Linked DNA regions of Homo sapiens: region 2 is linked to region 1. Evidence: fine-mapped expression QTL. A gene starts in region 1. The other region holds a variant in brackets. All regions are shown on one strand. Distances are from middle to middle.

Region 1 (15,493 bases):
TAGGTAACATTGCTAATTTAAATATTTACCATAACTTCCTTTTAAAAGACAATAATTTCAATCAAATAAGATAGGTTCTTGAAACAGATAAGTGTCTTATCCTATTCTTTCTCTAGGTATTTTTTCACTTCATCATAATCAAACTTGACTCTTTAATAAAGAATTATTAGAATTTCTCTTGGTCATTACTTAAAATATAGAGGCTGACTAAATACCATGTATCTGAAATATTAAATTCAAAAGAGAAAAAAATTTTAAATAAGTTTTCTGTGATGTTATGCTACTTAGAATTATGTCTGTATTCTTACCTTCACAGTGAATAAATCACCAAGACTTGTAGATTCTCTTAAAAATTTATACAGGTTGTTTTCAAACTTTCAAAAAATCAATGTTTCTTCTTCACAATATTTTATAAAGCCTTTTTTATTTTACAAAATGCATCTTGATAAATAATTTAAAAAGTACATACTATATTAACTAGAATATTAAAGGATAAATAAAAGAAGAATATTAGTTAATATGTAGCACTACATATAAATACTTGGGCATAACTACGATAGAAACTCAATGAAGTGGTGATATTCTTCTGCCTACTTATAAACAAGCTAGGATTTAAGAGAAGTTAGACCAATATTCAAATGAATGTTGAAATAATTTTTAAAAATATTAGACATTTTGAAATAAGAATCACTGCAAATGTAACAACTACAAATGCAAACTGATACTATATTGATGATCTGAGTAGAATGAGTGGCATGGTTATCAGAGATAAAATTTTGGTAAAGTTCCAAACAAAACAATATATATTGTTTCCTTACAGTGTTAACTGTTCCTGGAAAATTCAACGTATAATAAAACCATACTATAAGTATTTGGAGCTTAAATGTAAAATGAAGTTGTTTCTAGGCTGAGAACTTCAGGTTTTTATCTAGTCACACTGGGGATAAATTAAAATTTCTCTTGGTCATTATTTAAAATATAGAAGTTATCTGTAATCTTATATTTAGAATTATAAATGTATGTATTGTTACCTTCAAAGTGAATAAATCACCAAGATTTGTAGATTATCTTAAAAATTTTTATAGGTTGTTTTCAAACTTTCTAAAAGCCAATATTTTCTTTTCAAAAAATATTTTAGTGGCACTGGGTGCAGTGCCACTCTGTTGGGAACCACTGTTCCATGTAATCTTATGGTCTATATAATAACCAGTGGTCTATATAATCTATTGTTGCCTTGCCAATCTTTTCCTTCTACTTTAGTTTGGCTCTTTGTCATCCCTCACTTGAACCACCCAACTTTTCTCTCTGTTTTGTCTTCTTTGTCTATAATTTACCTTTTAAACAGATAGCAAATGTGATCTTTCTAAAATGCACTTGTGATCATGTCATCCCTCTGCTGAAAACTTCCATTGGCCCCCCATCACTCAGGATAATACAAACCTTTTATTTTTATTTATTTATTTTTTTGAGATGGAGTTTCACTCCTGTTGCCAAGGCTGGAGTGCAATGGCATGATCTCAGCTCACTGCAACCTCCACCTTCTGGGTTCAAGTGATTCTCCTGCCTCAGCCTCCCAAGTAGCTGGGATTACAGATGCCTGCCACCAGGCCTGGCTAATTTTTGTATTTTTAGTAGAGATGGGGTTTCACCATGTTGGCCACGCTGGTCTCGAACTCCTGACCTCAGCTGATCCACCTACCTCGGCCTTCCAAAGTACTGGGATTACAGGTGTGAGCCACCATGCCAGGCTGGAATAATACAAACCTTTTAGACTGGAGGTCAGTAATCTGATCCCACTAAATTTCAAATCTCACCTTGTACCACTCCCTCCAATGTATCAATGTGTGCTGTGCTCTGCTTTGTGTAGTCTCTAGAACTGAATAAATTCTCAGGTTTTTCACCAACTTGCCGATCTTTTGTCTGTCAAGTTCTTACTAACATAGTCTTCCTTCAGTATGCATGGGGATTGGTTTCAAGAGCCCTGTGGATACCAAACCCCACAGATGCTAAAGTTTCTGATATAAAATGACATAGTATTTTTTTATAACCTACATGCATCCTCCCACAGACTTTAAATCATCTCTAGATTATCATACCCAATATAATGTAAATGCTATGCAAATAGTTGTTTTACTGTATTTTTCATTTGTATTATTTTTTACTGTTGTAGCATTATTTTTTCCTGTTTCTTTTTTCTGTATATTTTCAATCCCCAGCTGATTGAATACACGGGGCAGAAGCTGAGTATACAGGCCGATTGTGCTTCAAAATGCAACTCAGGCATTTCCACCCTAGTAAAACCTTCTGACAGTCTCCCCACTCCATCCCATGTTTGCACTTACCGTATGTTTTGTAACTATTTGCTTTCCCATTAGACTGTGAGTTATCTGAGGGCAGGGATTTTTATCCTATCTACCCTTGTATTTCAAGTGCATCAAATAGGTGGACAGTATATAGCGGGGTCTTAAAAAAGCATTTATTGAATTAATGTTGAGTGATCCTGCTGTAATGGTGACTATTTGGAGAGTTTGGATATTACTATATACAATCATCCCTTGTTATCCTCAGGGAGTTGCTTCCAGGATCCTTGCGGATACCAAAATCCAGGGATGCTCAAGTTCCTTAAGTTAAATGGCATAGTATTTGCATATAACCTATGGACATCCTCCTATATACTTTAATTCATCTCTAGGTTGCTCATAATACCTAATACAATGTAAATGTTATGTAAATAGTTTTTATGCTGTATTTTTTTGTGGTTTTTTTTATTAACATTTTATGTTTATTTATCTCATTTTTATATAAGGGCTTGTTTGAACTGCAATAACATTGGTTTTGGCTGTAAGAGAAATTACATATCATTAGATAACTTTATTTCATTAGGGGAAGAGGTTTTTCTCCTTAATTTCTCAAGTGAAAGTTCAGTGGAATTCTGACATATGTTTATTCTGCCCTGAAAACCTCAGTGTCTTCCAAAGAAACAACTACTGAATCTGAAATAGTGAATGGGTCCAGGGATAGCCTGCCATATTGGAAATAAAGTAGGAGAACAGAGTTTAAACCACAGGCTGGCCACTTACTAGGTAATCTGGACCAAGTGGTTCTCTAAGTCTCAGTGTTATTATGTGTAAAATAGAGGTAATGGAGAGTTGAGAAGGAAAATGAAATCATGCATATGAAAATATGTAAATGGTTAAAGCACTATACAAATAGAAACTCTTAATAACCATTATTAATGGTGGAGGAAGGCTGGACCACCACATTCTGGACCATCAACCCTGCCCCTCAGAAAGGAGTGTTAATTCACCAAAAGGTTTGTTTTGTTTTTGAGGTGGAGTCTTGCTCTGTCATCCAGTCTGGAGTGTAGTGGCATGATCTCAGCTCACTGCAATCTCTGCCTCCCAGGTTCAAGTGATTCTCTTGCCTCAGCCTCCCCAGTAGCTGGGATTACAGGTGTGCACCACCACACTTGGCTAACTTTTGTATTTTTAGTAGAGACAGGGTTTCACCATGTTGGCTAGGCTGGTCTCAAACTCCTGATCTCAAGTGATTTGCCCACCTCGGCCTCCCACAGTGCTGGGATTACAGGCATGAGCCACCGCGCCCTGCTGTATTGCTTAGGAAATAATGATAATTTTTTAAAAAGTCTGTACATGTTTGGTTCAGATGTAACCACCCATTTATTTTCTTTTGATTATTTTCTATCTGTGGTTTGGTTGAATCCAGGGATATAGAACCCACAGATATAGAGGGCTATATTTTTCTTTTACTAGCCGCAGCACTTATTGTACTGACTGATGAGACAAATACATTCCTTTTGACCCATTCCTTAATTTACATTTTACTTTAGTTTACACATCTCAGAAGTTTACACACTTCAAGTACTTAAAGTGACTTGAAGTTTTCTTTTTAATCACTGACAATTTTAAAAAATTATTTCTTCATGAATATACACATATACATGTACAATTTCTGGTGGGTTTTTTTTTTTTTTTTTTGTCAAATTGACCCTCAAGTTGATGGTTTTAGTTTTAAGTGTTGGTTCATGGTTTTTTGACATATGTGCTTGTTGTTCACCAACACTTGACTTTGTTTTAGTTACTTTTCAGATCTGACAGTTTTCACGTGTATTCAATTCCTTTGCTAATTTGAGACAGAGATCAAAATGAACTAGTCTTAAATAATCTTGGTGTTTGTCCATGCTGGACCACGCGGCTTCTCTCTGCTAGTTACCATAAGGGTGGTCATAACCACTCATCATTCTTTTTATACCTATTTATTCCTTGCCTAATCAGGATTTAGAAGCAATATTTCAATAATTTACTACTGACTTTCCTTTGGGTCATTAGAAGAAAAATGGTCCCTGTAGAAACAATCTTGTAAATAAATGATAGTGTAGAAACGTTTCCTGCAGGCTACAAAGTGACCTCTTGAAATACACTAAATTGGTTCTTATCTGTCGGGACATTCAGATCCTTCCTTTATTTCACTTTGGAATAGAAGAATAAATTGGGAAAAATGTGCTCTGCAATCCTCTGCCCTGCCTTAGAGTATGTAAATAGCATCATGCACAAAAAATTTTCAAGCTGTCAGGAGTAAAGTAAGTATGATAATTTGGGATAATTAAATGCTTAAGACAATCAAAATAGAACTGATCCTAGTAAGCTTTTCTCACTTGGAGGAAACTTCTTTAAAAAGTATTTACTGATCTAAATGTCTTTCAATAAGGCTGTTAAATAAATTGTGGTACAACAATCTACAGTTTGAAATATTTCAGTCTTTAAAAAAGGAGAAGCATACCTATATGTATGCACACAGAAAAATAGATGGTTGTTTTTAAAAAAGAAAAAATGCGAATAATTCATATACTATGATCCCATTCACATAAAAAATAGCAGAAACAATTGAAATATTTATAAAGAGAGAGGGCATTGACTGGAAAGATACACACACCAAACCGTACTCAATTCTGCATTGAGAGCTTTTGCTTCCGTGTCTATGTCTTTCGTTTACCAGATTATCAACTGCTGTATTGCCAGATCAAATACAGGATACTCAATTAAAGTTGAATTTCAACTATAAGCAACAAAATTTTGGGTGCATTTCCCAAATATTGCATGGGACACACTTAAAAGGTATTCATTGTTTTGTTCATTAAAAGGTATTCATTGTTTTGCCAGATTTGTTAAATCTGGCAACTCTACCTTAAAGAGACTTTAAATTATTTATCCTTGTATTCCTATTACTAACATAGTTACAGAGATATAGTGGATTACAATAAATAACATGAGGGGGGTAATTTAGGAGAGAACTATCAAAACAGATGATTTTGCTAAGTATGTGACATATTTATCTCAATTTTCATGGAAATATCTTCAAATTTCATTAGTGGTCCTATTATAGAAGACACACAGCAGGCAAGTGTCAGAGCTAGAAATGACCCTAAATTTCTGGGTCCCTATTCAGCAGCCATAAGCAATTGCCAGCTGCAGGAAGGTGGAGGCAGAAGAAGTAAAAAGGGAACAAGAGGTGAGGTTTACGTTCTGCCTAAGTGGAACAGAGTAGAACTTTGCACAAACTCCTTAATCTTGCCTAGAGGCAGAATGTGGGATGTACTATATGGGAGGCAGGCAAATCTGGGCCTGGTTCCCACCTCCATCACTCATTTGAACAAGTTATGTAATTTATTTTTGCGTCAATTTTCTTGTCTGTAAAACTGGAGTGAGAGGACCTAACTTGAGTACCGAAGTGAAGAGTCAATGAGATAATATCTGTGATCAGCACAGTGCTTGGCAAGTGGAAGACACTCAGTCAAGCTAACTTAAAGCCCCAGTTTTTTCATTTGTACAACAGAACAACAACAATAATAGCAACAAGCAATAATACTAACAATATTTATCTTGCCTCTGAGTTGTCTTGAAAATCAGATGAGTATATATATTATGTTTCTAAATTCTAAAGTGTATCTCACTCTCCTAACAAAGCAGTTGGTCTTCAGATCAGGACCAGAGTTAATACCATGCCAGAGCATTATTACAGGTTTTTTCCAATGAGTAATTAATTTTATTTTTAAACTTATCATACAGTAAAATTGACTCTTTTGGTTTACAAAGTTCTATGAGTTATAACACGTTGTATAGGTTTATGTAACCACCACCACAATCCGGATACAGAACATGACTACAGCTTTAGAGATTCTTTTTCAAAGTGTTTTACATTCATGTTGCAAAACACTTTTAAAAATAAGAAAAGAGATGTAGATAAACGTGCTGAAGATGCAAATTAATGAAACCAGCTTTTGTGCACAAATCTCTGCAGTTTCCAGTGTTTTCAGCTTTTGTCTGAGCCATTTTTGCTGTCGGCTTTGCAGACTATCTCTTTCTATAAAAGTAATCAGGCGTCCGTTGGAGAGTTGGGGTCTTTCTTCACACTAAAGGCACATGTCCCAGGCACAAGCCTCAGGATCCTTATTTGATCTTTTTTAATACGACCAGGTCTTAAATTTCCGAACCATGTTTTCCCTAATTGCCATTTTCTCTCTAAAATGAAGAAGCCTGGAAGAACCTTCTTATCCCTTCGGGGAAATTATTTAATTGGGACAAAGGGGATGTGGAGTTACAGAGAGCAACGATAGGGCTTTCAGAACCCAAAACCTGTCTGGTATAATAACAGATCCTTCCGGTAACCAACCATTCAATTTGTCCCTCTCCCCAACCCCATCCTCTCCATCACCATCTGCCAGATGCCCCCTGGGACAATCGACTTTGAAACCAAACTTCTCTCCCAGGTCAGCTCCTGCAATCCCCACTCCTCATCCTTGGAGCTTTCTCCACAGAAGTGACTTGACACACCGCGCTACATCTGGGGAGGGGGGCGGGTCCGCTTTCCGGGAGACTCAAGTCTTTGCTATTTGCCTTTTGTTTCTGGGATGCCTTTGGCTGCCTTTCTCTTCCATCTGCTTTTAATTTTGGTAAGAGAAAAGCTAATGAATCAGGAATGAATCTCCTCTCCACTAATCTTTTTTTTTTCTTTCTCTCTCTCTCTCTCTTAAAGTTGGCGCGCTCTCTTCACAAGTTCCATCACTACCCAAGAAGTGAGGGGGCGGGGGGGACAGGCGGGAAGGCATTAATTACACCTAAATCTGAAGTTTGCGGCCTCAAGTACCACTTTGATGGGGAGAGCTTCTGAAGCTTCCATACAACCTGCCGTGCCTTTGCTGCTGCCGCAGTAGATTTTCAGCTCATTTCTTTCTGCTGCTGCTTCGCGCTGCTCTGTCATGCCTAAATCTATCTCGTCACTGCCAAAGGTGCCTGAATCAGGGTGAATTCCACGAGATTCACCAGCGGTTTTGCTCCAGTCCAAGGTAAATACAGTATGCAAAATGAGGAACCACCCAAGGATGTCGGGGAGGGGGGAGAGAAAGGGATTCCCTCACCTTTTCCGGCACATTCCTCGTTAATTTCCACCAGGAGGAGGCGCGCAGCCCAGCTCCCCTAGTCTCTCTTCTTAAATCCCCCTACCTACGGCTGCCGAGGTTGGCCGCGCGTCGGGAATCTCCCCGACAGTCCTGGCCCTCCCCCGCCCCCCGGGTTGGTTTTTCCCAGCTGCGGAGGTTGGGAGGTTGGGCCAGGGGCTGGGGTGCGAAGAGAGTCGGCGCCCGCAACGCGGAGCCGGGAAGTCGTCGCTACTCTGGTGGAACTCAGAGTTGGTTCTGGAGGCGGCGGACGCGGAGGTGAGCAGTGGGAGCCCGCGGCCTGGGAGAGACCCGGGAGGCGTCGTTGGGGCCCCTCCCCATCCTCGGGTGGAGAGTAGGGTTGGTTCGGGTTGCCACTGTACCCCGAGTCCCACTGCTGCTTTGTTCCCAGACTCTCCCCTCCTCTTTGGAGATGACTTGAACCCCTTTGAGATCCGAGGGGCTGGCGGGGCGCGGGCTGGGGGGCGACAGTTGTAGCTCCACTTCCTGCTAATGCGAGAAGGTACAAAAAGAGATCAAAAAGTCCTGTAACCTGAAACTTCCCTCGCATCCTAACCGGGACCTGGTGGAGAGGTCTGGGCGGGGGCGGAGACACCCGGAGGCCGACCTTCCGCCGAGGCGGTGCAGGAAGGAACGGGAGAGGGAGAAGTTTGGTAGGGAAGGAATTGGGGATTAAGCGGTAAGTTAGACGCGGGAGACGAGTCTCCTCGGGAAAGGCGGAGGGCGGGAGGCCGGTCGGGTTTATTTAGTGTGGGCCAGGGAAGAAGGAAGACTTTGCGGTCTGGGTGTCGGATGCGCGTCCCCCTCCGGAGTAAAAGTGACCGGAGGGGTTGGGGAGGCGAGGCCGGGGCGGGCTTTTGGAAGGAGGTCTCTGGGACAGACTGGAGACGACTAGACTCGAAAAGGCCGGTTTTTGCACTCCGGAAGCCGCGGCAGCCACCGCTGTTCACGCCTCTCTCCTGCTTGTCCCAGGTCCCTCAGAGGATCCAGCGAGGGGCGCCAACAAGAGGCGAAGAGGTGGCACCAGGGCGGCGGCAGGAAGAGGAGCGGGAGCAGGAGCGCGGAGCGGAGCGTCCCGACCCGCCGTGCGTACTTTCTGGAGGGAAGGGGCGGGGGAATCGGCCCCTGAGGGAAGCGCCCGGTGGCGAGGGGGTTAGCCAAGTTCCGGCTGCGGCGCCACTCCCTCGGTTCCACGAGAGGAAAGTTTTTTTTTTCCAGACGCTTCCGCCGGCTCGCGCCCTCCGGGCCCAGCCTCCCGAGCCTTCGGAGCGGGCGCCGTCCCAGCCCAGCTCCGGGGAAACGCGAGCCGCGATGCCTGGGGGGTGCTCCCGGGGCCCCGCCGCCGGGGACGGGCGTCTGCGGCTGGCGCGACTAGCGCTGGTACTCCTGGGCTGGGTCTCCTCGTCTTCTCCCACCTCCTCGGCATCCTCCTTCTCCTCCTCGGCGCCGTTCCTGGCTTCCGCCGTGTCCGCCCAGCCCCCGCTGCCGGACCAGTGCCCCGCGCTGTGCGAGTGCTCCGAGGCAGCGCGCACAGTCAAGTGCGTTAACCGCAATCTGACCGAGGTGCCCACGGACCTGCCCGCCTACGTGCGCAACCTCTTCCTTACCGGCAACCAGCTGGCCGTGCTCCCTGCCGGCGCCTTCGCCCGCCGGCCGCCGCTGGCGGAGCTGGCCGCGCTCAACCTCAGCGGCAGCCGCCTGGACGAGGTGCGCGCGGGCGCCTTCGAGCATCTGCCCAGCCTGCGCCAGCTCGACCTCAGCCACAACCCACTGGCCGACCTCAGTCCCTTCGCTTTCTCGGGCAGCAATGCCAGCGTCTCGGCCCCCAGTCCCCTTGTGGAACTGATCCTGAACCACATCGTGCCCCCTGAAGATGAGCGGCAGAACCGGAGCTTCGAGGGCATGGTGGTGGCGGCCCTGCTGGCGGGCCGTGCACTGCAGGGGCTCCGCCGCTTGGAGCTGGCCAGCAACCACTTCCTTTACCTGCCGCGGGATGTGCTGGCCCAACTGCCCAGCCTCAGGCACCTGGACTTAAGTAATAATTCGCTGGTGAGCCTGACCTACGTGTCCTTCCGCAACCTGACACATCTAGAAAGCCTCCACCTGGAGGACAATGCCCTCAAGGTCCTTCACAATGGCACCCTGGCTGAGTTGCAAGGTCTACCCCACATTAGGGTTTTCCTGGACAACAATCCCTGGGTCTGCGACTGCCACATGGCAGACATGGTGACCTGGCTCAAGGAAACAGAGGTAGTGCAGGGCAAAGACCGGCTCACCTGTGCATATCCGGAAAAAATGAGGAATCGGGTCCTCTTGGAACTCAACAGTGCTGACCTGGACTGTGACCCGATTCTTCCCCCATCCCTGCAAACCTCTTATGTCTTCCTGGGTATTGTTTTAGCCCTGATAGGCGCTATTTTCCTCCTGGTTTTGTATTTGAACCGCAAGGGGATAAAAAAGTGGATGCATAACATCAGAGATGCCTGCAGGGATCACATGGAAGGGTATCATTACAGATATGAAATCAATGCGGACCCCAGATTAACGAACCTCAGTTCTAACTCGGATGTCTGAGAAATATTAGAGGACAGACCAAGGACAACTCTGCATGAGATGTAGACTTAAGCTTTATCCCTACTAGGCTTGCTCCACTTTCATCCTCCACTATAGATACAACGGACTTTGACTAAAAGCAGTGAAGGGGATTTGCTTCCTTGTTATGTAAAGTTTCTCGGTGTGTTCTGTTAATGTAAGACGATGAACAGTTGTGTATAGTGTTTTACCCTCTTCTTTTTCTTGGAACTCCTCAACACGTATGGAGGGATTTTTCAGGTTTCAGCATGAACATGGGCTTCTTGCTGTCTGTCTCTCTCTCAGTACAGTTCAAGGTGTAGCAAGTGTACCCACACAGATAGCATTCAACAAAAGCTGCCTCAACTTTTTCGAGAAAAATACTTTATTCATAAATATCAGTTTTATTCTCATGTACCTAAGTTGTGGAGAAAATAATTGCATCCTATAAACTGCCTGCAGACGTTAGCAGGCTCTTCAAAATAACTCCATGGTGCACAGGAGCACCTGCATCCAAGAGCATGCTTACATTTTACTGTTCTGCATATTACAAAAAATAACTTGCAACTTCATAACTTCTTTGACAAAGTAAATTACTTTTTTGATTGCAGTTTATATGAAAATGTACTGATTTTTTTTTAATAAACTGCATCGAGATCCAACCGACTGAATTGTTAAAAAAAAAAAAAATAAAGATTCTTAAAAGAATTACAGTGTGTGCAAGTTTGCTTTGAAAAAAGGATGAAGGGCAGGAGTATTCAATGGTCTTGGTTCCGATGATAATTATTACTTAACATAGCTGAGAATCAAACTGTAGCAATGTCTAATATAAATAGACTTGGGAGATCGTTTTGAAATGGTGGATCCTTTTAGTATTTAAATGGAGAGTTTGAGTATTCATGTGACTGTATGGTCCCAAAGTTAATGCTATTTATGAAACAGTTTTGTAAGAACATAATGAAGTTGGTAAAAGCTAAGCGTTCTGCACAATAAACAGTTCCCAGTTTGGGGCTTTTTCAAGGCTAATGAAGTTATTGTTGGTCTAGAAAAATAGTATTTACTTAATAAAACTCTGTTTGAAATTGTTCTGTGGATTTTTAGAGCAGAATTTGAAACAAATGTAATGCAAATAAATATAAAGATAAAGTGTCTTAAAGACAATATTCTGAAATAAAAGATATAAAATATAATTTAAAAAATATTTCTCAATGTCTTAATGTAAATTGAAACTTAGATTTTCTTGAGGATATTTTCAAAAAAACATTTAAAGTGGAACATAAATGTTCTTTAGTTTATCAGAGACCCAGCTAATATGTTTAAAAAGTTGACTTGACATGGTTGAATATGAACTTGAGGAAATAACCACAGATAAATGTCTACATCTGTAAACACGTGTCTCAAGTATTTATAGGTTCTTATCTTCAGTTCAGTGTTTAAGAATTTGAGGATATTTTGATTTTAGCTAAGCTGTTCATAATGTAAGTATATACACCTTTGTGAAGAATAAATCACATTTAGGTGTAAATACAGGCAATCATTAATTGATACATCCATAATATACAAGGCTTTTATTATTTTTTCAGTTTATTATCTGTCATTTAATCTGAAAAGTAAATTCCATTAATCAGTCTTCAGGCTCTTTTATCAAGTGATTTAAATGTAGCCATTATTGCTTAACTGAAAGTATTAGGTAAACTTGCATCAGTAAGTCTTAGGGCTTGCTTTTCCTTTGAACTGGTTATGTCCTTCAGTGCTTTATGTTTGAAATAAAATCTACATTTTCATATTTTTATAAATAAAATAGGATCAGATAGTATTTTAGGTTCTAGAAATCTTTGCTGATTCCTTCTTTGAATTAAATTCAGAAATTTTCAAAGTAGGGCTAAAAATAAGTAAATCTTCCTTTTTATAGGTTAGAATATATAGTCAGAATACAAAGCTGTAATTCCTTAAATTCCATCAGGCTTGTTTTGTGAAATATAGTATTTATTATTTAAGGGTTATATTTCAGATCCTATAATTACCTCAGAAAAAGCTAAATATTTGGCACTTAAAATTCCATCAAACAGTTTAAGTGTTCATCAGAAATTCCTAAACTGTCTGGTTGCCATTATTTGGTAAGAACAATGAGATACTAATCTGTCAAAAATAGTGACCACTATCTTAGTAAACTGTTGATGGACTTAGTAAGTCTTCTGATATTGTAGGAAACAAATTATAATATTGATAGAGCCTCTATTGAGAAGAATTGTTTCTTCATCACATGATAATCTAACAGTTTAAAGTGGAGCTTTATCTAAGAACCAGGGAAGCAGTAGATTCATTAGTCTAGCTTTTCTCATCAACTCTTTGAAGCAATGATGAATCTGATAAAGTGAAGCCAAGTTTTCCCTGTTAGGTAGATGGCTTCTTTGAAGTTATAATTTATTGCTTCTTTTTCATCCCCCTACTTATTCTCTTGTTTGGACTTTCCAATTGCTACTGCTTTGTTTTCCATCACATCACTCCTTCCTGTTCTCCAAAATATGGAAATAAAAAAGTCAATTAAAAGAACACCTTATTCTTAAGATAAAAAATTGTTATTATTTGACAACTAATTAATGTTTTGCAGCCCTAATATTCTTAAGTCTATAAGCTTATAAAACATTCTAAGTTCCTTGGAAGATAGAGGCTATATAAATTCAATAAGTATAAGGGAATATGGGAAAAATAAAAGTATCACTTTATTTAAAAATAAGACAAGTCTGTTTGTTTTAAATACTGTTCTTACTATTAATGCATTGTTGACTCTAGAAACCTGCAAGTATCCATTTTTAAAATTTTATTTTAGTTGGTAATACTCTTTATTACTGAACGTAAAATTTTCAACATAAAACACCCTTCATTTATCCTTTACAAGTTTCATTTGAAGAAAGTTAGAAAAAATACTTAGAAATTCAAGGACTTGATATATCCCTTAATTTAGAAAGCTATTCAACTATCCCATAAATTTCTATTTAAAGTAGCAAAAATTTTAGGATAATACAGCTATTTGGCCCTGAATTATAACTGCCCCCTTTGATTGTAACCATTCAGTTTGCAGCATTCGTTTTTGTAATAGCAGTTTGGCTGCTATGGGTGTGATTCAATGGTAACCTACAAGGCAAATTTGTACAGGAGCTGACAGATTTTTCTAACAAAATAAGGAGACTTTGAAGCACATTGAATAGGAGTTTTTAAATGAATAGGATTTTTTAAAGGAAAAAGAGTAGGAGCTTGGGGGGGAAGGCTGGTTGAAATAAATGAGCAAATCACAAATAATAAATCCTTTAGAAATACCTTGATTGGCAGTAAGTGTGGATTATGCTCATCTCAGTATTTAATTAGAAATAACTTACCTTTGTCTTTTGTCTTTTTAATTAAAGTGGCTGTAAAAAAGAAGGTCCAGATGAACTGAGATTGTTTGCTTAGGAATTCTGTTTTACTCTTTTCCTTTTACCTGATGTTCTAAAACAGGGCTTACCTTGTTGAGGACCTTAGAGGCTTTGCAATTCTAGATTGTGATTCTTTCATATCATTTTAGTTTTTCTCCCAAGACTACACTAAAGGAGACATCACGAGATTTGCAAGGTTAAAAACAATTCTGCACGTGCTTCCTCCTGCTCCCAAATCCGGTCATCCACCTTTCAGAGCAGCACCGTAAAGTGAAGACAGACATTTATTAGATGAAATTCTGGTTTCACTTTTACACTTGTGCAAGCATTTTTAACAGTAAAGGAGAGGAAAGGGAGGAATTTATATTTCTAGATAATATATGAAAATTACCTTGATATTGTATTTTTAAGATCTTTCACCAATACTGCAGTGCTGCACTAGAAATAATTAGTTTAAGAAAATACATTCAACATTGTCCAGGTGATCCTGTCACCTTTTAGATGACGAAAAACATCTTGAGGATGTTTTGTACAGTTATTTTCCCATTGTTACTCTTAGAGACTTTTGTTTCAAAAAGGCAGGCTCATTTTATTTTGTTTTATCTTAGAACATTTTAGCAGCTCTTTGTCATGGGTTAAAAAAATCTAGAATTAAAAAAATGTTTAATATATGATTTATATAATTTTGACAAGAATACAAATTCTTAGTCGTTCAAAATTGGAAGCGCTCTTAGAAGTGTCAAGCTCAGCTTTCCATTCCACAAATGAAGTAACTGGTAACTGTGACTTATTATGTTATACAGTGACAGTTATTATGTTATACAGTGTCAGTTATACAGTGACAACCAGGACAAAATCCTAGGGTTCTAGATTCCCCTTCTGGTGCTCTTTTTACCAGATGATGGCATTACTAATTGCCTACCTTGAGGCCTTTGAAATCACCATGTCTGATAAAAACATGCAATTGCTTTGGTGAATTTGTTTGTTTTATTGTTGTTGCTTTGAGTGAATGCTTCAGTTTGCTCTAGATTTTACTTTGTTAAAAATTACCATGTTTTAACCCCCGAAAACATTTAATGTTTTTGAAATGATTTTTTCATAACAATCTTATGAGTCTATTATATAATAGGAAGTATTTTGGAAATTTAATGGTGATATTTCTTTGGAAAAGAAAAATAAAAACTCTGGAATGCAGTGCTGGTTTGTATAATTCAACCTTAAATGTGAGTTAAGCTCAGCTGGTGAGAAAACTAAACAAATGAGACCAAGTTCGTGACCATTAAGTCAATCAGTCACCAGGTGAGACAGTCAGCTTTGCATTCTCTGCTGTGTTCTCCTAGCTCACGCCCACTCCAGGTGCATGCTGCCATCCTCTAAGGGCCTGGACCAAACAGGGAAGTTAGTTAAATCAATGCAAATCCATTATCACCCTGGAAAACCAGGGGACTGACCAGCCGAACACTGCCAGCTTGGCTGCTGAAGTGCCAGTTTACTGTCTTTACATATGCAGGACACACACTACATCTCAATTTTCTCACATCATATGTAGTATTTATGCTGCAGATTGCAAAAGGCTTATAATTTATGTGAATTTTGGGAAGCTAGCATGAGTACCTTTCAGGGTATTGCATGGGAAATTAATTAGGTTTACTTTATTATTTTAAAAAAGTGTGGGTTAAGATTAAGCAACATGATTACTATATCATACACTTACACGTAAATGTTTATAAAAACAAATACAGTTTATATTTAGCTGACATTTTATGATAGGACTTACTTGTGGTTCACAATTTAACTTGGTTAATGTAAGGAAACATTTGGTCTAAGGAAGCAGAAGCTTAAGATAATGACCCTCTATAATACTTTTTGTGAAAAGTAAATATTAAAAATATGTTTTAAAGAACCGGGGATGTTATCGAGATAGGCTTAAAAAAAAAAAAAACGGAAGTTTATACATTTATTTTCCCCTTCCCCTTACAGTTCTTTTTTTTTTTTTTTTTTTTTTTAAGACACAGTCTTGCTCTGTTGCCCAGGC
Region 2 (15,493 bases), 37 kb after region 1:
GGTAGATCTTCCTCCATCCTTTTATTTTGACCCTATGTGTGTCTCTGCACGTGAGATGGTTTTCCTGAATACAGCACACTGATGGGTCTTGACTCTTTATCCAGTTTGCCAGTCTGTGTCTTTTAATTGGAGCATTTAGTCCATTTACATTTAAAGTTAATACTGTTATGTCTGAATTTGCTCCTGTCATTATGATGTTAGCTGGTTATTTTGCTCATTAGTTGATGCAGTTTCTTCCTAGTCTTGATGGTCTTTACATTTTGGCATGATTTTGCAGCAGCTGGTACCGGTTGTTCCTTTCCATGTTTAGCGCTTCCTTCAGGAGCTCTTTTAGGGCAGGCTTGCTGGTGACAAAATCTCTCAGCATTTGCTTGTCTGTAAAGTATTTTATTTCTCCTTCGCTTATGAAGCTTAGTTTGGCTGGATATGAAATTGTGGGTTGAAAATTCTTTTCTTTAAGAATGTTGAATATTGGCCCCCACTCTCTTTTGGCTTGTAGGGTTTCTGCCGAGAGATCCGCTGTTAGTCTGATGGGCTTCCCTTTGAGGGTAACCCAACCTTTCTCTCTGGCTGCCCTTAACATTTTTTCCTTCATTTCAACTTTGGTGAATATGACAATTATGTGTCTTGGAGTTGCTCTTCTCAAGGAGTATCTTTGTGGCGTTCTCTGTATTTCCTGAATCTGAATGTTGGCCTGCCTTGCTAGATTGGGGAAGTTCTCCTGGATAATATCCTGCAGAGTGTTTTCCAACTTGGTTCCATTCTCCCCATCACTTTCAGGTACACCAATCAGACGTAGATTTGGTCTTTTCACATAGTCCCATATTTCTTGGAGGCTTTGCTCATTTCTTTTTATTCTTTTTTCTCTAAACTTCCCTTCTCGCTTCATTTCATTCATTTCATCTTCCATCGCTGATATCCTTTCTTCCAGTTGATCGCATCGGCTCCTGAGGCTTCTGCATTCTTCACGTAGTTCTCGAGCCTTGGTTTTCAGCTCCATCAGCTCCTTTAAGCACTTCTCTGTATTGGTTATTCTAGTTATACATTCTTCTAAATTTTTTTCAAAGTTTTCAACTTCTTTGCCTTTGGTTTGAATGTCCTCCCGTAGCTCAGAGTAATTTGATCGTCTGAAGCCTTCTTCTCTCAGCTCGTCAAAGTCATTCTCCATCCAGCTTTTTTCCGTTGCTGGTGAGGAACTGCGTTCCTTTGGAGGAGGAGAGGCGCTCTGCGTTTTAGAGTTTCCAGTTTTTCTGTTCTGTTTTTTCCCCATCTTTGTGGTTTTATCTACTTTTGGTCTTTGATGATGGTGATGTACAGATGGGTTTTTGGTGTGGATGTCCTTTCTGTTTGTTAGTTTTCCTTCTAACAGACAGGACCCTCAGCTGCAGGTCTGTTGGAATACCCTGCCGTGTGAGGTGTCATTGTGCCCCTGCTGGGGGGTGCCTCCCAGTTAGGCTGCTCGGGGATCAGGGGTCAGGGACCCACTTGAGGAGGCAGTCTGCCCATTCTCAGATCTCGAGCTGCATGCTGGGAGAACCACTGCTCTCTTCAAAGCTGTCAGACAGGGACATTTAAGTCTGCAGAGGTTACTGCTGTCTTTTTGTTGTCTGTGCCCTGCCCCCAGAGGTGGAGCCTACAGAGGCAGGCAGGCCTCCTTGAGCTGTGGTGGGCTCCACCCAGTTCGAGCTTCCCGGCTGCTATGTTTACCTAAGCAAGCCTGGGCAATGGCGGGCGCCCCTCCCCCAGCCTTGCTGCCACCTTGCAGTTTGATCTCAGACTGCTGTGCTAGCAATCAGCGAGACTCCGAGCCAGGTGTGGGATATAATCTCGTGGTGCGCCGTTTTTTAAGCCGGTCGGAAAAGCGCAATATTCGGGTGGGAGTGACCCGATTTTCCAGGTGCGTCCGTCACCCCTTTCTTTGACTCGGAAAGGGAACTCCCTGATGCCTTGCACTTCCCAAGTGAGGCAATGCCTCACCCTGCTTCGGCTCGCGCACGGTGCGCGCACCCACTGACCTGCGCCCACTGTCTGGCACTCCCTAGTGAGATGAACCTGGTACCTCAGATGGAAATGCAGAAATCACCCATCTTCTGCGTCGCTCACGCTGGGAGCTGTAGACCGGAGCTGTTCCTATTCGGCCATCTTGGCTCCTCCCCCGCAATTTTCCCATTTATAAAGTAGATCTTATAGTAGTATTTACCTCAGACTGTAATGACAGTTGAGTGAAATAGTGCATATAAAGTGCTTGGCATTAGAATGTGGTCAGTAAATATCTGTGTATCAGTTTCGTCCCCTGCCCACCTGATAAGCTCAATGATGACTTAAATTATATACTTACACCTCATCTATTTGGAAAATTATGTTGTTTTTAAAATTGTAATAATTAAAAATTTACAAGAGTATTAATATTTTTATGTAATACCTTTATTACATAAAAATATTTTATTTGTGCTCAGTTTAGCCCAACCCTATAGAATGTGATGAAGAGGTGGAACTACATTATGATCCTTATTTTTCAGTTGGGAAACCAAAGCAATGAAAAATTAATGAAATTGGCCAGAGTTGCACAAGACATAGCCTAATAGGAGTTAAGTATTTAAGTTAAGATTCCACAGATCTAGAACTTCATTTGAATGGGAGAAAAATTATATCATGAAGTGGTTGATACAGTTGATTCTATAAACAGGGCATTAAACACGTTGATTTGGAAAGCACTGAGTTTTCCTTCGCAGTTGTTTTTTATACTAATAATAGTAGAAAATTTTCCATATACCTTAAGTGCTTTCAAATTTATTTCTAGAATACTGACAGAAAAAAAAAAACACCTTACTTTTAAGTGATGGAGAGGTCTTTCAAAATATCATGCCACAGGGAAATAATATTTTTTCTTGGCACTTAATTCCAAGTAAATGCTTAGCTTAGCTTATGATACACATGTGGTGTTTCTCGAGGACTTTAACACTGTCGTTGTTGTCATGCATTTTCTCACACAGACATTGCACTCTATATTTTGTATAAAATTCTATTCTTAGCCATATATAAATTGCTACTTTGCTATTCACAATTTTGTTATATACAATTACTCAATTTTGGTTTCACCAAAATACATATTATTTGCCATTTTGTTGAAATATGCCCTGCAAGACAAAATATGCTTGCAGTTAGTAAGTATCTGACAGATTAAAACAATTTAAAAAAATCAATATGGTGGCCTAATTCCCTGGTCTGTTATTTAAATATCTTTTCACCTGATTAACCATTCTACATCTGCAGACCTATGGGAAGAATTCCTAATTTTATTCCATCTTCATTTACAGTAGGGACATAAATGTCTGTTGATCTTATCAAATTATTTTTAAGAATTTAGGGATTTTGTCAGAATCATTAATTCAGCCAACCTGGTTAGTCCATTTATACCATAGCCTCAGGTTTCCTATATCCACATATGCCATTCAGAATTACTAAGGCATGGAAAGCGTCTCACAAAAGAAAAACTTTTACATTATTTAAACAGTGTCGTATCCACAAAATAAACGATATGCTGTTCTTGGTTCACCAAGCAAGCACTTTGCCATCTCTGGGTCCCCAGTGAACAGCTACTCATTAAACCCAGATACATTTGGACATCAGACCCCCTCTCTAACAAGGAAAGGGGTCACCACAGGGAGGAATGCAGGCCTGCCAGTCAGAGTCATCTCCCACCAGAAACCTGCTTTAATGAGCATTTTCTTGCTTCTCAGGGCAATCCTCATGCTCTCACTGTGCTCTCAGCAAGAACACCTGGGATTCTTCAGCCTTGCCATGTGTGGAGAACAGCCCAAAAATAGGCCTGCTAAGACTTCCAAGATGGATTGCTAGACTTTGTGAGTCACCTCTGAAACCAAAAGCTCTGTGCTTTGTGATTTTTGTTTGCATCATTAGGATGAGGAATTTCAGCAAACCTAACCACAATTACCTGTGACTAATCTTAGCAGATATAAAAGCAAGTGTTTCCTCTTTCAAACCCACATAAATATACAAAAGGCAAATAAAACCTTGAATTGGATAACCCATTCCCAGCTATTCTTCAATAAAATATTCATAAAACAAAAACTTTGCAGTATAAATATGGTATTCTACTAAAAATGCAAAATATATTTCCCAACTTGGTGCAGCTTTGTAAATATACATTAACATTCAGTGAGAGTAAAGAATAATTACATTTCATGCATTAAACAGATTTCACTTTGTGTCTTCATAACAGAGAGATAGGTCATCTCCGGAAGGATTCATGGGTAGGCTGGGATTCTCATGAGACTAAAGCATAAACCAAACTGGACTTTGCAGAATACATAGAATGAGATTTATCATGCAAGAGCTATGCTTTGCCAGAGTGAACTCCTGTGCCCATATTCTGTGTCCTGTCCCATGTTTTATGATTAAAGAGACATATCAATGTTAGAAGGCTGTGTGTTGCTTGTATGCACTCATAACAAGGTAAGAGCCAGAACCTGGAAATAATCTGGAAACAGAAAAAGGATGATCTAATACAATGTCCTGATAAATATGGATTCATTGATTGAGTTAGAAAGGAAGAGCACAGAAAGGAAAGACCTGGAAATGGTGGCATTGGTACCATAGAGTATCTATTCCAGAGTCAAAGGAAACAAAAAAAAGAAAACATGCCTGAATAAGCTATCACCTCTCAGTTACTTATGGCATAGGGAGAAAGGGAGAATATGGTTAAAGAAAATGCAGATAAAAATTGAAACGCTAATTTCACCTGGTAGTTTCAATTTGCCTTAACCATCTAAGTACATTTTTCAAAGCTTAAAGTGATTTTGTCAGGTTCATGGAATTGCAATCTTTAATGACTCACATTCATGTCTAGATGATAAATGATGACCTACATTTCCAACACCCCATTAGCCAATGTTCTTAAATCACTTGAGCAATATTAGCCCTCACAAACTTTAAGAATACCAAGTATTATTACCCTCCTTAGTTTGTAGAGGAGAGAAAAATGGAGATTTATATAAATAAGGGAAATCAGTTGTCCAAGAATAACTGTGTATATTAGGGCTAACTTAAAATATATATCCCCTGATTCTGCTCAGTTATGTGATCTTATACCCATTTTACTTTCTACCCCAAAGTTACTGGTTCCTGAACTAGGAAGTGCTGTAATTTTAGAAGCTTCTAAAGGAATGCAAATTCTTTTTGGCCAAATGTGACTCACAATACAAACACAGGAACAATTGTTTACTTCTGTAAATTCTAAGATGGTGCAGGTTTGGTCAGAAATGTAATTACCTTAGGGCCAGACTAGAATAACAGTTAAATAAAAACTGGAAGAGAAGATGTTTTTATAGAAATTAAGTTATGGGAGAGTAAGATACATATCCAGAAAGCAGGTTTCTGCCTTTCAGAGGAGAATATTTTCTTAAAGTTTGTGAAAGGGTGCAAGGGGCAAGGGTTGGATTGGTTCTCAGACCACTGAGGGGATTGGCAGGAGACTAAAGTATGGAACCACTGGGGTGCTGGAACTCACCCACATGGGCTTGGGAGAGCCAATTATTATACTGGGATTACAGGTGTGAGCTAGACTGCCTGACCTAAAATTTTGTTTTTTACAAAGTAATAAATACTCAAAATTTATCACTCCCTAATTATTTAACTACATTTTTACTATTATCTGTGCCATTGAGGTTATTTATGTCTATTTGTATTAATGGTAGGAATGCTAAAAATGGCATGCAACTATGCATTTCTTTCTAACTCTACTTTCGGTAACTTCGTGTTGAAACTTAAATTTGATAATGGTGGGAGTATTTAC[A/G]TGAGGGAAATTGGCAAGCAGCACAGCTTGATTTATTGTTTTGTTGATTATCTAAATCAGGATTCAGTAAAAGAGGGCATGCTTGCTATGTGTTGTTATAAATAAAGTTTCCCTGGAACACAGCCATGTCCATTTACTTATGTACTGTTTGTGACTAGTTTTATGCTACCATGGCAGAGTAGTTTTAACAGAGATGTTAGACCCACAAAGCCTAAAATATTCACTGTTTGGCCCATTATAGAAAATGTTTCTATACCCTTCATCTAGACTTTAAAAAGTGATGAGTAAATGTTAAAAATGCAAATTAAACTTAAAAGCATGTTTTTTTAGTAGCTATTACATTGTGATTAGCACACAAAACTGAGGAAATACTTTTTTCAATATTGGAAAACTGTTATCTGATTCAGTAATCACAGTATTGACTATTATGTTTGAACTTAAGTGTGCTGAACCAAAAAAAGGTTTTAATTTAATGAATATAATCTGTATGATGGTGGAAGATAGCTTAATAGTAGATCACATGTCAGACTTAATGACAAAAATAAAAAAATTAGCCAGGCCTGGTGGTGCGTGCCTGTAGTCCCAGCTATTCGTGGGAGGGGGGAAGTTGGGGGGTGAGAGAGGAGGATTGCTTGATTCCAGGAGGTGGAGGCTGCAGTGAGCCATGACTGTGCCACTGCACTCCAGCCTGGGTGACAGAGTGAGACCCTATCTCAAAAAAAAAAAAAACAAAAAAAAAAAACAGGCAGAAAATAGGTGTTGCCAAGGATGTGAGGACATGGAAAAGTTGGAACCCTTGTGCCCTGCTGGTGGGAATGGGAAATGGTGTAGCTACTATGGAAACAGTATGGTGATTCCTCAGAAAATTAAAAATACAACTACTGTATGATCCAGCAATCCCTCTTTTGGGTATATATCCAAAGAATTGAAAACAGAGTCTTGGAGAGATATTTGTGTACCCATGTTCATACCAGCATTATTCATGATAGCCAAGAGGTAGAAGCAAACCAAGTATCTTTTGACAGATGAATGGATAAACAAATGCGGTATATGTATATACCATGGAATATTATCCAGCCTTAAAAAGGAAGGAAGTCTTGTGATGTGCTACAACCTGGATGATCTTGAGGACATTATGCTAAAAATGTCGCAAAAAGACAAATACTCTTTTTCACTTATATGAAGTATCTAGAGTAGTCAGATTCATAGAAACAGAAAGTAAAGTGATGATTGCCAGGGGCTGAGGGGAGAAGAGAGTAAATTGTCATTTAATGGGTATAGAGTTTAGTTTTGTAAGATGAAAAATTCTAGAGATTGGGTGCACAGCAGTGTGAATACACTTAATACTACTACTGAACTATACATTTAAGAGTTGTTAAGATGGCAGATTTTATATTATGCCTTTTTTTTTTTTTTTTGAGTCAAGAGTGTCACTCTGTCACCCAGGCTGGAGTGCAGTGGTGTGATCTCGGCTCACTGCAACCTCTGCCGCCTGGGTTCAAACGATTCTCCTGCCTCAGCCTTCTGAGCAACTGGGATTACAGGTGCCTGCCACTGCGCCCAGCTAATTTTTGTATTTTTAGTAGAGATGGGGGTTTCACCATGTTGGCCAGGCTGGTCTTGAACTCCTGACCTCGTGATCCACCCATGTCAGCCTCCCAAAATGTTGGGATTACAGGCATGAGCCACCGCACCCAGCCTGTTATGCCTATTTTACCACAATTTTTAAAAAAGAGTTAGTGGATTGAGATACAACTCTGTTTGTCAAATTATAGTTAATTGCAATCATAGGTTGGCTATGGATATAGGAATTGAGCAAAAATCAACTAAAGCATTCTGTGAGAATCAGTTGGAATTTATAATAAAGTATATTGTATATTTTATTATCATTAGTAAACTGTGTGCTATATGTCCTTTATATTAGTAAAGTTTAGAATAAACTTACATACATATGTAACATATATAATATCGTATATTCTATATATAATATATATACACACACATACACACATATTCCCAACACAGAGCTGGTTGTTAATATTTACCAGCACACCACTGTCAAGATTGGGCTTTCTCTTATCCAGGAACTGAGATCCGCTCTGGTGGAAGGATCCCAGGTGGCCTGGGTTCGGGTTCCCAGGTTCTATGTCTGACTCCTCCACTTAACTATCTGTACGACTCTGGGCAACTTGCTTAGTTAGACTCTCAAGTGTTAGTTTCCTCTTCTGTTAAATGAGAGCTAGATTGAGTAATCTGTAAGATTTTCTGCTATTAAAAGCTATCACCAGCCAGGCGCATTGGCTCACTCCTGTAATCCCAGCACTTTGGGAGGACGAGGCAGGCAGATCACAAGGTCAGGAGTTTGAGACCAGCTTGAACAACATGGTGAAACCCCATATCTACTAAAAATACAAAAATTAGCTGGGTGTGTGCCTGTAATCCCAGCTACCCAGGAGGCTGAGGCAGGAGGATTGCTTGAACCTGGGAGGTGGAGGTTGCAGTGAGCTGAGATTGCACTACTGCACTCCAGCCTGGGTGACAGAGATAGACTCCGTCTCCAAAAAAAAAAAAAAAAAAAAAAAAAAAAAAAAAAAAAAAATGACTATAGCATTGTAAATTCCGTGAAATGAGGGGCTGTTTTTTATCTTTGCATTTACATAAGCACGTAACATAGTTCTTTGCACACTCAATTAATGTCTGTCAAATTAAGTTGAATAGCGTTTTTCTCAAAATGTTGTGGATTCTTAAATATAATAATAGCTAATATTTCCTGCCTTACTATGCACCAGCTGCTTTATCTCATGTAATTCTTTTAATTCTATGTGGTAGCTACAGTTACCGATTCCGCTTATACAAAGTAATTGAGATTTCCTGAGATGTCACATCTAATAAATGGCAAACTGAGATTCCAACTTGGATCTATCTCACTTCACAGAAACCCTCTTAACTACTATGCTACACTACTTTTTATCCAGAACTAAGATCTTCCCTGAAATGCTAATCATGGAGAATCCTTCTGCATGCCAGAAAGTGAAATGACAAATAAATCTTTACATTTATTCATTGCAACCCTGGAGGTGCTATCATCTGTGTCTCAAATTTAGTTTGCAGCAGGATCATCTGCAGTTCTGAAATGCATATTCCTGAGCCCCGCCCCCCGACCTATTCAATCAGAATCTCTAGGGGTGGTGCCACAAAGCCACATTTTTATTTTTTATTTTATTTTTATTTTTATTTTTTGAGTCGGAATCTCACTCTGTGGCCCAGGCTGGAGTGCAGTGGCGTGATCTCGGCTCATTGCAACCTCCATCTCCTGGGTTCAAGCAATTCTCCTGCCTCAGCCTCCCAGGTAGCTGGGATTACAGGTGTGCACCACCACACCAGGCTAATTTTTTTGTATTTTTAGCAGAGATGGGGTTTCACCATGTTGGCCAGGCTGGCCAACAACTGACTCCTGAGGTGCCCTCGGCCTCCCAAAGTGCTGGGATTACAGGTGTGAGCCACCATACCCAGCCAAGAAGCTACATTTTTATCTGAACTATCATTTTGATATGGGGAACCCTGGACCACATTTAAGAGAAGCACCAGCCAAGAGCAGGGACTTTCAAACACTTTTAACCACAACCTAGAGTTAAGAAAACATTTTATATTGTGACCCACCATTCATATACATGTGCCCACAAAAATGTGAACATTCTGATATTTTCCAACTCTATTCCATTCCATTGTACTTTTTAAAACTAATGGTCAAGTTTCATAAATTGATTTTATTTCCCATTAGTGGGTCACAATTTGCAGTTTATAAAATACTGACTTAGAAAGGTTATATTTGTACCATGTGCCTTCTTTTTTCCTGATTTAAGAGTTTGCACATTAGCGAGACAGAAAGTCCAGCTGTCATTCCTGTATACCTCAGTTAGCTCACCTGATTATTCCAGGCAGGGCTGGATTTACTCCTTATCCTCTGTTCCCAGAAAGAAAAGGATGAAGTTTTTTCCCTTGAAAGGGTTTTTGAAAGTGTCATTTAACTAGCGATTTCCGTTAGTCCCACCACTCCACCAATACGAGTTATGGCAGCTCTGTGTCCCATTAGTGAGCTCTTTCCCCTTCAGCTCTGTGGGACAGGCTGCAGGGCCCAGATCTCTCTGAGCATCTCCTACCTGGCACAGCACAGGATTTATTTAGCATTTGGCCTAGGGTTTGTCCCACTGTTTCAGAGTTTGCTACCATTACTGTAGTAGGTATGAATAATTTTTCAAGTGTAAGCTTGTGACTTCTTTTTTTGCTCCTGAAATTATTGATCAAGGGGATTTCTGAATGATTTTGTGTTGGATTTAGCTAAAAAGAGTTTTATTTTCCTCCTGCTGCTGAAATGATCTCACATACCTTCATCTTAGCAAGTCCTTTAGATTTCATTTGGGAATTAAGATATGAAAGCTCTTTCCAGGGTTATTTTTATGGGATGAGTATGTAAGCTGAAAATAGGAAATATAGTTTGGTTAAGGGGAGCTACATTTGGGATGATCAAGCACAAATTCCTAATTTATTTTATGTTAGCAACAGAAGGCTGTCTTTGTTTTTCTTCCTTTCCTCTCCTTTTATTCTTTTTTTTTTTCATTTATTCAGCTACCTATTTGACACATATTTATTGGAGCCTACAGTGTACCAGGCACTGGTGTAAAAATGCAATACCAATATGTCCTGATACTCAGGAGACTACAATCTAATGGTGAGGGAGACTCTAGTTAATCAATGATTATAATATTTTAATGAAAGAGGTATCTGAGTCAGGGCAGTCAGGTAAAGCTGTTCCAAGGGGGTGACACTGAGCTAAATTTCAAAGGGTGAGTACAAGGATGAAGAAGCCAAAGAAGGAGGTAATAGAGACTTTGTCTTAGTTTGGGTTTCCCTGAATTCAGAGCCTGCAATAAGGACTTAGAGGCAGGTAGTTAATTTACAGCATGAGCCCCAGAAACTGGAGTGAGAGAGTGTGAGACAGAGAAAGAAAAACAAAGTCAAAGTAGATTGAGCTCATTGCCAACTATGGACAACTGGGACTTAATTCCACTGGGGACCTCTGGAGGAATGTAGGTACTATAGAATTATCTCTCCTCCCAAGGACAAGTGGTGGGGGTTCTGTCCGTTGTCTCCTATCTTTATTGGGATACAGGATGTGTGTGTGTGAAGGCTGGGGTGGAGGAAACATGAAGAACTGACTGGTTTTTCTCATTCTTTGTGGCTAGTGACAAATGGGGTGCAGTTGAGGGGGTTTTTAAAATCTTGTATTATTTTCTAAATGTTCTTCATTTCATGTGAGTTGAGGCTTACTTAAATTTTCCTCAATCCAGCTCATGATTCCTTGCAATTTGAATAGATTATTTCCATAGTCTGATCTCAGTGTTAAGTGATGTGAATGTTCATTTGTTTCCATGTTCTGTGTTTTAGTGAAAAGTTAATAGTCTCGAGAAGGACTGTTCTCTTGATGGCATTTGGAACCTCTGTATAAGTTTACCATACCATACTTTCTCATATGAAAAGAAGTATAATATCATCTTAAATAGGAACATCCTTGGAAATCAACTTTTGCTTGATGAAAACCTTTCTAGAACTGCTTCTTGGGTTTTGTTATTCCTTATTTTTGTGAGTGCAAGAAAGTAATCAGAAGAATTATATTAATTTATTCATGATCAGTAAGCAATAGAGACCATACCCAGTCTCATAATTATAATGTTAAAAAGGACACTGTGCACTAATACACGAAAAAATGTGGATCGAAAAATAGTTTAATAATTTAAAAGCAAAATATAAAATTTAGGAGTACAATTTATCAATAAAATATTATTTTCTCATATCCTCTGAAATCATATAATCAAGTTAGAATAGATTTCCTCATAATAAAGTAATTTGTAATAGAGACTATTCTCTTGCATAAGTAAAAATTTTAGTATGAGATAAAATCATTGCTAGAAATATTAATCAAATGTTAACCTGCTTTTTATTCTTTATATTTTCCAGATTCTATTTTTGAAATGACTTATAGTACTTCCTCTAAACATTACAATTTATGATTTTTTATTATTTTAAAGTTGGCATCCTGAGATTACTTGTTTTTTAGCAGATTCAACCTTATGTTAACTTCAAGATGAAAAAGGGCTTAGTTGTAAACAGCTACTTCAAAGTAGAGGTTTATGAGATTTAAGAGCTTTCTTAGCACTAATAAGAAAGAATACTGCAAATAATGACACTCCATCACTAGCATGTATTTTATAGTCCATATTTAGTTCTTTTTTCCCTTGGAACTTTGGAGTAAACAACCCATTCTTTGTGGGTAACATGGTCTTAAATAATTAAAAAATATTTTTAGGGTAAAAACCTTTTACTTCATTTGAGAATTTATGTCTTATGGAATTAGGTTTTAAGGCTGTGGGTGCTCAGATACAATTATTTATCAATAAGGCACCTTATAAATGCACATTATGACACCATAAAGAATAGACATGCAAGTATTGTCATGTCTGCTCTAAAAGTAGAGCTAGTGAATTACAGATTATAATTAGAATGAGAGACTAAATGATATTTAGGGCCATGTGCAGGGCTTACTTCTTGAAATACATGGCTGCCAAATGCTTATGGTCACATTTTAAATATTTATTTAAATCCAAGGGGCCAATCACTTTTTATACCCAGTCTTCAGGACCACCTGTCCCAAGCTACAGTTAGCATGCTATTAACTACTGTTGTTTCCATGATCACTAATAGCATCCATTTCTCTTATTGCACAGTATTTCAACATGATTATAGGAACATTCGAATTTTAAACTTGGAAAGAACTTCTAAAATTATATGTATGGAGTGCTTTTCCATTTCAAAATCAGTTAGGTATATGGAACACTCACATAAATGTTTAGTAACTGGTTCTCTAGGGGAAAAAGCCCTGATTTAAAACTTTTGACAGTCTTTGTGGTGTAAATATTCCCACCATTTCAAGCTTCCAACGTTACTTCACGGAATGTGCCATTGTTTTTGTAGTATTTCTACCACACAGATACATGTAAATAAACTTGACAGCCTAAATAATAGAAATATGTAGTAAAATAATTAGGAAGTAATGAATTTTGAATATTTGTAGCCGTTGTTTTTAATATAATTTACTTAATTGTAGGTTTATATAATTTAATTTTTTTGAAAAAGGCTTGCCAAGTTCCTAAAATTTAACAGTTAGCTCCCATGAGCTGGTACAAGACAGCTTCAGTATGCTACTTGGCTGTAGAGATATTATAGCAGATTTACAGATGAGGAAACTGGAGCTCAAAAGGAAGAAAGGAAATTAACATGTATTGACCACTTATTTGAAGCCATGCAGGATATTGGACAATGTCATAACTCATATAAGCCTCAAAAAACTTAGTGAAATAAGAAGTATTATTCCAGTTTTACAGATGTAAAAACAGAATTTTCCAAGAGTCATAATGCTATTAAGTGACAAAATCAAAATTAGAACCCAGATTCCTGGTTCACGGGATTCTTACTTTTGTTTGCACTAATATATCTTGCCCTCTAATTTCCATATAAGTCATGTTAGAACACCAGAGATGATCATGTCACACATGGCGAGATACAGCCATGGGCCCTGTGCCTTTTAAGACACTATTTTTTTAGACGTGAATATGGCTATGGATTTTTAAAATTGCAATATATAAACAGTGGGTAATTATAACTGTGTTAATCTGATTTCAGAGATAAACTGGCTTTAGATTTTTAGTAATTAGAAAGCTTAGCTAAAAATAAGCATGAACAGGAAAAATAGTAGTATATATAGATATATATACTACATATTATGTAGGCTTTTCAAGTAGGGTTGATATTATCAGCATTCTCAATGTAGTATAGAAGTTATCATATTGAGTAGTAAAATACAGTGATGGGTGAAGAACATAAAACAACAAAAATTATAATTACTTTTCGAGAACTCAATACTGTTAGGACCAATGGCTCAATACAGAGATGAGATAGAAGAGAGAGATGTTCAATAAACAATGTCTAAGGCAAATCTTTTATTCAGAGTGAATAACTTGGTACCTTTGTTATAGTATGATGCTTTTAGTCAGATATCAACAACAAATAGAAATCAACATAGAACAAGCTAATCTTCATCATGAAGTTCTTTGCAATCACTTTGAAGATTAATGTAATGTGATATTATTATACACTATTATACAAAAAAGACAAGTGCAAATGTTGTAAGAGAAAAAGATATTAAATAGCCATAAAAGATTCTAATTATAATTAAGGCACCTTGTAAGGACAATAAAAATGGATTTAAAAGTGAAAGATCTATCTTTTCGGAAGTCTCATTTTAAGTATATTGTTAATTCAAGTTAATTTTTAAAAATGTTTTTCAAGCCGCATAAGGTTTGTGAGAATTTCTGTTCCAATATTATGGTAGTCACAAATAAATATTGGAGATTTTATATATATATATGTGTATGTATATATATTATATATATATGTGTATGTATATATATTATATATATGTGTATGTATATATATTGTGTGTGTGTGTGTGTGTGTGTGTGTATATATATATATATTTAAAACAGGTACTGTGCATCTTACTTAGTATGATTAAAATAAAAGAGTTCAGAACCATTTGGTCCAGAACCAAATCTGTCTCTTTGTTTGGTCAATAGGAACTGCACTTATTTCAAGACTGAAAAGTACTTTAAATTTGGAATGTTGGAGGTACCTTGGTAATGTAAATTTTTGCATTTCTTTTATGCTCTCCTGTCTTCTAAGTGTTTTAACTTCCATCACAATGAAATTTCTTCCTTCAAAATTATATCACCAAAAATGACATTTGGAACAAACATCAAATTTAAACAGATTTCCTTGCTTCTTGTCCATGTTCTTCTTGGAAGCCACAGAGAGGATGGCCTTTGGGTGATCCACTAGTTGTTTCTAAATGGGAAGCTCCCTGCTTTTCCCCAAGGCACTGGCAGCTCTTTCACACATTGCCACTAGCAATGAACAGTCTCAGAAGTTCTTGAAAGATGGTTTTGTCACTTGTCTTACCTCTCTGCCTGCTGACTTGAAGCCTGACAAACAATGATAAGTGAGAGTGACAAATGGCCATTACTTACTATCCTAGAGATCTCCCATAAGGAAAAGGCCTGAATATGGAGCTGGACATGCCTCCATTACACTCCCAACTTGAAGAAAGCAAAACCCAATACAACTAAAATTGTCTAATTAAATTATTTGCAAGTAAATAAGTTAGTAAAGGAAGGCACTCATACCCAAAAGAATGTGAAAACAAGAACATAGAGTTAGAGTTTACCCATCAACTTATCTTAATGTGTTTCTAGTATCTTTATACAGGCATTTTTGTTTCAGTAATAATGTATGCTAACAGTATCTAATATGTAAACAACTTAGCTTATTGTTCTAACAGTGCTTCTAATTGTTCTATACTGTGGAATTATTATAAGGCAGACTCATTGCGTATCTTATCCAAGGACAGTTATTATTGGAAGTGCAGGAAAACCTAATTAAAACACTTTAATAATTCAACACAGTCGTCCATTACCAATCTGTGACACTGTGTGGATTAGATGTATATCGCATGCTTTACACAGTAGTGTCCCCTTATCCACTGGGAATACATTCCAAGACCCCCAG

Evidence for each region.
Region 2: its variant is fine-mapped to the expression of TPBG in monocytes (TOPMed, PIP above 0.99).

Annotation. Positions count from the first base shown.
Region 1 is chr6:82,356,177-82,371,669 of GRCh38, forward strand. TPBG (trophoblast glycoprotein) reads left to right here and starts at 7,641. Exons shown (of 2, transcript NM_001376922.1): 1 at 7,641-7,732; 2 at 8,447-11,244. The coding sequence starts at 8,786. The coding sequence ends at 10,048. It overlaps LOC105377875 (a long non-coding RNA gene), which reads right to left and starts at 7,481. Exons shown (of 3, transcript XR_942738.4): 1 at 7,436-7,481. RefSeq lists enhancers at 7,074-7,587, 7,588-8,099, 8,251-9,153, 9,154-10,055 and a silencer at 9,122-9,201.
Region 2 is chr6:82,393,269-82,408,761 of GRCh38, forward strand. It overlaps LOC124901352 (a long non-coding RNA gene), which reads left to right and starts at 14,454. Exons shown (of 2, transcript XR_007059664.1): 1 at 14,454-15,493. The variant A/G (reference allele first, on the strand shown) is at 5,816.